2 linked regions of the Homo sapiens genome follow. The protein of the gene in region 1 interacts with the protein of each later gene in a pairwise test. Each region holds a gene or a part of one and is shown on either strand. Other genes may lie near its edges.

The links.
Region 2: the proteins of FAM161B (region 1) and GPSM1 interact in binary tests that used the Homo sapiens proteins (3 or more experiments, as listed by UniProt).

What each region holds. Positions count from the first base shown.
Region 1 is NC_000014.9:73,933,043-73,936,980, reverse strand, and holds part of FAM161B (protein FAM161B), read left to right. Parts: intron 1-892; coding exon 893-1,032; intron 1,033-2,586; coding exon 2,587-2,725; 3' UTR 2,726-3,938.
Region 2 is NC_000009.12:136,330,263-136,334,200, reverse strand, and holds part of GPSM1 (G-protein-signaling modulator 1), read right to left. Parts: intron 1-3,938. UniProt on the Homo sapiens protein: Guanine nucleotide dissociation inhibitor (GDI) which functions as a receptor-independent activator of heterotrimeric G-protein signaling.

The DNA of each region.
Region 1 (3,938 bases):
TTCTCTGTAGACTTTTAGGGATGTTGGACTCAGCTGAGATCTCCGTAAGGATGTAAGGATGCTCTGTTTCTACTGCATTAGGCTCTGTGGATCTCTTTCCTCTCCAGTTTCAGACAAGTTGGGGTTCCATAGTGACCTAGTTCCAATGGCAGGGCATTAGCTCCATCTTATAGTTAGTACATTGTCTAGGCATTTGCTGGCTCCACTTCCTCCTCCCTCCATAAATCTTTCTCCTCTCACACACATAAGCACACATGGTCTTGGATTTACTTAGCAACCTGCATTGTTCAAAATCTCATGCTTCTTTATGTTAATGTTAAGCAAGCTCACTCTTCAGATCTCAACAGATCTTTCACCTCTCTAGGAAAAATACAAAGTACTCTATGATTTTGTTCTTGAATACTTAAACAAAAAATAATATTCTGCTGGTCCACATGCAGACCATCTGTCCTTCCACTAAGAGTCTTGGTGTAGCTTATTTTCTATTTTATTTTAGTGTTCCTGATAATGGTTTGTTGCTTTAAAATCTTAGGTTTTTAGTCCATCCTTTTAAATCTGGGTCTCATTTGTCTCCCAAAAGTCTAAGTCATTGCTTTTCAAAATTGTGACTCCCAAATCAACAGTTTGGCATCTCTGGGGAGTGTTAGAAATACAGAATTACAGTCCTCATCTGACACCTACCAAATGTGAAATCTGCATTTTAACAAGACCTCAGGTGATTTATATACACATTAAGGCTGGAAAACAAGGGTTAAATAATTTTCTTGCAAATCTATGCCCCACAATAAGGGTGGTGGTGGTTGTGGCAGTATTGTAACAATACTGATTAAGTAATTTAGAATTGTCTGGTAATTCATAAGACAGCTACAACAGATTAATTTCCATCCCACAGGATCTAGCCAAGAAAGAAGCAGAACAGTGGTATCTAGACACCCTGAAGCAGGCTGGGCTGGAGGAAGACTTTGTGAGAAACAAGGGTCAAGGCACCCGGGCTGTTCAAGAGAAAGAGACCAAAATCAAGGATTTTCCCAGGTAACCTGAAATGTTGCTGTCATTCTGCAGCTCTCTAAATTGTCATACCCAGTAATACCACTGGGAGGAAACTTTAGAATAGCCACTGGTATTTTGAGATCATAATCCTGTATTTATGTAACATTAATAAGTAATCCAGAGATCTCCAAGTAACACATTTGAATTTAGAGAGTGATGCAGTTGTGAATAAAATCTGACAAATTATGTTTCGTTTTCTTCCATTTTGAAACAGATCATTTTCCAATTCCAGTTCCAATTTCATGAGCTGAAACTATTTCTACTTTATTTTTGAAGAAAAATCATGTATATTTTGACTTCTTATAAAACTATAAAACTGTTTTTCTAGCATTCCTTAAAGGTAGCTCATTAGTATCACCTTCTCCATAACCTTTTTTTTTTTATTTTTTGTATTTTTTTTTTGAGACAGAGTCTCACTCTGTTGCCCAGGCTGGAGTGCAGTGGCGCGATTTCTGGCTCACTGCAAGCTCCGCCTCCTGGGTTCACGCCATTCTCCTGCCTCAGCCTCCCGAGTAGCTGGGATTACAGGCTCCCGCCATCACGCCTGGCTAATTTTTGTGTATTTTTAGTAGAGACGGGGTTTCACCATGTTAGCCAGGATGGTCTCGATCTCCTCACCTCGTGATCTACCCTCCTCAGCCTCCCAAAGTGCTGGGATTACAGGCGTGAGTGACCGCGCCCGGCCCTCCATAACCCATTTTGATATTGAGTCAAAGGGAGAAAATAGTATCTTCTCTCCATTATTCTCAATTGTTTTGTATCTTAAATCCTAGCAGCCCCTACCCTAATTCCTATCTCAGTTTTATACCCCTAGAAATTTTCCTTTACATCCCATATAAAATAGTAATAATGTTGAGACTTTTTTTTTTGAGACGGAGTCTTGCTCCGTCGCCAGGTTGGAGTGCAGTGGCGCAGTCTTGGCTCACTGCAGTCTCTGCTCACTGCAGTCTCCGCTTCCCGGGTTCAAGCGATTCTCCTGCTTCAGCCTCCTGAGTAGGTGGGACTACAGGTGTCCACTACCACGCCCAGCTATTTTTTGTATTTTTAGTAGAGATGGGGTTTCACCATGTTGGCCAGGATGGTCTTGATCTCTTGACCTCGTGATTCACCTGCCATGGCCTCCCAAAGTGCTGGGAGAGACCGTTCTTAAACCTTACACAGTGCTTTAAGACTTTCTTTTTTCAGACTGGGCACGGTGGCTCACGCCTGTAATCCCAGCACTTTGAGAGGCTGACGTGGGTGGATCGCTTGAGCCCAGGAGTTTGAGACCAGCCTGGGCAACATGGCAAAACCCTGTCTCTACAAAAAGTTAAAAAAAAAAAAAAAATTAGCTGGGTGCAGTGGCACGTGCCTATAATCCCAGCTACTTGGGAAGCTAAGGTGGGAGGATTGCTTGAGGTGGGAGGGTTGCTTCAGCTGGGCTGTCCAGGCTGCAGTGAGCTGAGATCATGCCACTGCACTCCAGCCTGGGTGAGAGTGAGACCCTGTCTGAAAAAAAAATTTTTTTTGTTTTTCATGTTTTAATTTATTCTGCAGGTTCCAAGAAACTACAAAACTCAGCATCAGAGATCCAGAGCAGGGTTTAGAAGGATCTCTAGAACAGCCTGCAAGCCCCAGGAAAGTACTGGAGGAGCTGTCTCATCAGTCACCAGAAAATCTCGTATCACTTGCTTAATCACTACACTTAAAATTACTGCTTTTGAAAAATATTAAGCAGCTAACTTGGGTTTGAGTCAAGGCAGGGAAAACTTGGGTTTTGAGTCATGGCTACTGTTAGAGGATGGACAAATGAAGAGTAGCAGATTAACAGGCCAGGCGCAGTGGCTCACGCCTGTAATCCCAACACTTTGGGAGGCTGAGGCAGGCAGATCATCTGAGGTCAGGAGTTTGAGACCAGTCCAGCCAACACGGCAAAACTCCACCTCTACTAAAAATACAAAAATTAGCTGGGCGTGATGACACGTGCCTGTAATCCTAGCTACTTGGGAAGCTGAGGCAGGAGAATCACTTGAACCCAAGAGGCAGAGGTTGTAATGAGCTGAGATCACTCCACAGCACTCCAGCCTGGGCAGCAGAGCAAAACTCTGTCTGAGAAAAAAAAAGAGCAGCAGATAACAGAGAATAGTTCAAGGAAATCAAAGTGGGGAGGCTCAGGTGGAGGGATGGTAGCCTAAAGTTAAGGGTTCCTGCTTTGTGCCTCACACTTAGAGAATTAGGTACAGAAAAGAGAGCACAGGCCCAAATGCCTATAAGGGGCTAGTGCAGAAACATAAATGCGTCCATGGAGTGGGTGTAGACAGTAGGAGATAGTAGACACTGGAAAGTATCAAATCCTGCTGGAATATAGGCTCAGAGTTACTACATCAACTACATTTTCATCAAGCCAGAAATTTGTATGCTATCAACTAATTTAAAAATTACTTAGAAATATTGTATGGGCAAAATAAAATACATCTGCATATCAGATCTAGCCCATGGGGGATGAAAAACTTACAACTTCTAGTACAGGATTTCTTATCCTCAGTGCTATTAATATTTTGGGCCACCTAATTCTTTGTTGAGGGTTGGGGAAGGGAACTGTCCTGTACATTGTAGAATGTTTAGTAGCATCCCTGGCCACTACCTGCTAGATGCCAGTAGTACCCCTCTCCCCAGCTGTGACAACCAAAAATGTCTCCAGATATTGCATATCCCCAGGGGGCAAAAATGTGCCTGGCTGAGAACCACTGCTCTAATATAAATGGCTGCATGAAGCAAAAACTGGCATTCTAAGAATACAAGTAATTGCCATGAACACAGTCTATGTACTATGTGATTATGCATGTCATTAACAAATTAAGAATTTAAAACAATTCTCTCCCGTTATCTGTTTAGAATGTGCCTGTGTG
Region 2 (3,938 bases), on another chromosome or scaffold:
CGCCACTGGGGCAAAGGTGTGAGTTTGTGACCCCGGCAAGACCCTCAGGCCCAGGGGCCGGTGTTGCAGGGGGTGTGGCCCCCATACCCTGCCTTCACCCAAATCCCAGAGGTACGGGCTGCAGGGGCCAGGCACCCTAGCCATCCTCCTGAGCGACCACAGCTGCTGGGAGAGGCCCCCCTAATTCCCACCAAGAACAACTGAGGCTCCCAGACGGTAGTGGGGGCTTGTGAAGGCCACATGGGGGTCGGGTGGGGTGGGGATCTGATCTCGGCTCCTCCCCCACCCCCAAGCTCTCCCAGCCAGGGCCTGGGGATTCAGTCAGCCTCCAAGTCTCCAGGGGAGACCAGTGCTGCGGAGGTGTGGCTGCGGGTTAGCCAGTCCCAGCCCCTCTCCTCCTGGTCCCCCACCCACAGAGCTAAGCGCTCGCCGCTGCCAGCCAGGACAGGCCTGAGAACCCGCTGTTCCCAGGTGCTGCCCGCCACCCCCAGCGCTGCTGTGGGAAGATGTGGATGGCGCCCCATCCCAAGGTGAACTCCGCCGTGTGAGCGCCACCTAACCCCAAGGGCCAGGCCCTCTTCTGAACACCAACGCCCTGCTTGGCCGTGGTCCCCCACCTTCGGGCAGGGACTTTAGAGAAGAAACCCCTCACCCTGGGCCCTGCACAACCCCCAAGCACCCTGTGCGTCAGCTGCCACCCTAGCCCTGCTCACCGAGGGACCCCCACCCTGGGCCTTGGGGAGCTGCCCTTGGCACTCAGCTGCCGGGGAGGAGTGTGGGGTCACTCCGTGGCTGCCCGGCTCCGCACCTCCCTGCTGCCTGCTCTGGGGCCTGGTGTCCTCCTCCATCCTACTCTTACAGGTCACATGGGCCTCAGGCTGCTGCGCTGCCCTGGGTGGAGGGTCGCGGGGGGAGGACACACCCAGCAGATGCCATGGGGTGGCCAGTGTGAGCAGGCGGGCCCCCATCTGCAGGGTGCCCCCGGAGAGCCACAAAAGACTCAGCAAGGGCGCAGCTTGGGGGGCCCCAGGAGGTGGCAGGCACAGCTGGAGCCCAGGAGGGACCTGATTTCAGAGAAGTGGGGGAAGGGTTCAGCCTCGGCTGCTTGCAGGCCGGCCCCATCATTCCTGTTTGCTTTCTGTTGCTTTCATTTTTCATTTTTAAAACTTATGTTACCATTATTATTTTTATAGAGACACGGTCTTGCTCTGTTGCCCAGGCTGGAGTGCAGTGGTGCGATCTCGGCTCACTACAGCCTCCATCTCCCAGGATCAAGCCATCCTCCTACCTCAGCCTCCCAAGTATCTGGGACTTCAGGTTTGCACCATCATGCCCAGCTTTTTTTTTTTTTTTTTTTTTTTGGTAGAGATGGGGGTCTCACTATGTTGCCCAGGCTGGTCTCAAACTCCTGAGCTCAAGTGATCCTCTCACCTCAGGGCCAGGCCCTCCCACCCACTACCTGCCAGGCACCTCACAGCCACCTCACCCATCCCTCTGGGAATGGCCATCCGGATGCCACGTGGGTCACAGGAGCCCACCGTCGCCATGACAACCAGCCAAGCCCCATCCTGCAGCCAGCGCCACGCACGGGGCTTCCTGATTAAGGCCCACTTGCCCCACCCAGCCACTTTTCAAGTGGTCTCACTCGGTTTACTGCCCCCTCCTTCCAGGCAACATCGGAGGAGAGGGGCTTCAGGCCTGAGGCCTGGGTGTCTGTGGAGCCCAGACGCTGCTGCTCCGCAGATCTGATGATGGGAGCCACCTCCCGCCTCCCTTCCAGCCGGAGACGTGGCATCCGAGGCTCAAGGCGAAGGAGGCTTCTGGCCTGGGAAGGGCCTGGGCCTAAAAGTCGGGGATGGGTGCACGGATGGGCCTCTGTCATTCTGCACCTCCAATCTGGGATCCAGGCAATGCAGCCAGCCACCTGCAGCTGCACCAGGTGGGTGTCCCCTCCACTCATCCCAAGACAGCCTCCAACCACGCCCTGGCACCCACACCCACGTGACCACCCCACTCGCTGCCCGCCGCACCTCTTCCTCTGCAGGTTTCGCATCTTCTGCACGTAGAGCCACAGCTCCAGGCCCACGGGCAGCAGCAGCGGGCGGGGGCGGGGGGCGCCATACACCACCTTGCACACGGCCTTCTCCGCCAAGCTCAGGGCCAGAGGCGGGCCCTCCCCAGCAGGGGATGGCATCGCCAGGCCCCAGGCCCTCCTCCCCCAAGCCAGCCCTCGCCCCACCATGGCCACGGGTCCTGGGGGGTGGGCTGGCCTTAGGCTTCCCTGCCCTCTGACCTCCAGGATGGTGGGTTTAAAGCTCGGCGGGGGACTGCCAGTCCTCCAGCAGGTGCTCGGGGGCCTCCCCAATCCCTGACGTGGATCAAGGGATCAAGGACAGCTCAGAGGCTGGGTCAGCCTCGTCAGCAGCGGGGCGGGGAGCCCTGGGGTAATCCCGTCCAACGTGCTCCTCCAGGGACTGGGACCAGCGGCATTGCCCTCCCGTCAGTCACCCGCCAACTCCTCTGCAAACGTTTATCCAGTTCCCAGCGGGGGCTGCTCTGCCCCAGGACCGGGCTCACTCGGGAGCGCCAGGCACGTTTGTGAATGGAAAGAGGAATGGCGTCCAGAGTGTGTGAGTGCCCCCAGCCCAGCACCTCTTCCCCCAGGCCTGGCCCAGGGCTGGGCAAAGCTGGAATTCTGCGCAGTGGTGGCCCCTGGCCGCCTACCGGTTCTCCAGGCCCCTGTGCCTCCTCTGCTCCACCCGACCCCACCTGGCCCCCTCCCCAGCCTCCCTGGCACCAGCCCACGGTGCCAGCATGGGGCAGCGGGGGGGGGGGGCTCAGAGTCCTCACCATGCCAGCCCCACGTCTGCCGGGCCCTCTGTGCTCTCCCTCACCTGACTGGCCAAGGTGCGAACAGGGCCCCAGGTCTGACGGGGTCAGGGCCACGTGGGGCCTGGGGGATGCCGCTCCCCAGGTCGTGGGGCTTGGGAGGCATGGACCACGTTCCCCTAGCCTGGCTCCTTTCCTCAAACTTCCCAAGCCCCCGGCGTCCTTCTCAGCTGGGCTCCCAGCTTCTCCAGCCACCTGTGGCCCATGAGGAGGCTGGAACCTGACAGAGGCGGGGGACTGGGGGGGCAGGTCTTATCCCTGAGACGGCCACGGGGTCTGAGCAGAGGCAGGAATCCAAGGACAGGTGGGGGTCTTCAGGCCCTGGGCTCTCTCCTCCTTACCTTGAGGCCTTGTGGGCTCAGGGGTCCTACTCAGGCCAGACCATTTGTCCACCTTCAGGACAGCTTGGCCAAAGGCGGGGCAGGACCTAGAATGCCTCTCCCTTGCCCAGTCCTCGTCAACAGACTGAACCCTCAGACCCTCCGTGGTGGCTGGGGTGCCATCACCAAGGCCAGTTCCCAAGCCAGCACTGCAACTCCTACTACCTCCGGCCACCCGAAAGCCGTGTCCCTCAGTCCCAGCCCTGCTAACAGAATTGGCACCTGCCCCTCCCCAAGGCCGTCACCTACATGCTGGCCCCTGAGCAGATGCTGAAGAGACTCTGCTCACAGCTGGCTCTATCTGCCCCATCCCCCAGCCAGACACCCCCAGGGAAAACCACACCGACTCCCCTTCAGTGGCCAGGGGAGGGGAGAGAGTGAGGCGCAGGACCGGGCTGGGAGCACAGCGGGAGCTGGAATCACTGGAGAGGGGACTGAAGGTCACCCAGCTGTAGGAAGCACCTGGGGTCAGGCTTGCCAGGAATTCCTAGGGCCCGTCGCTGCCCAGCGACCCACCAGGGATGGTGCCCAGGACGGGGACAGGGGAGGGAGGAAGGATGGAGTGAAGGTAGGGGGTAGCATGGCCATGTGGCCAGAGAGGTTGCGGGGGGCCCAGTCCACACCTGAGGACGTCCTGTCTGGGAGCTGGTGACTGCTGCTTGGAGGGCA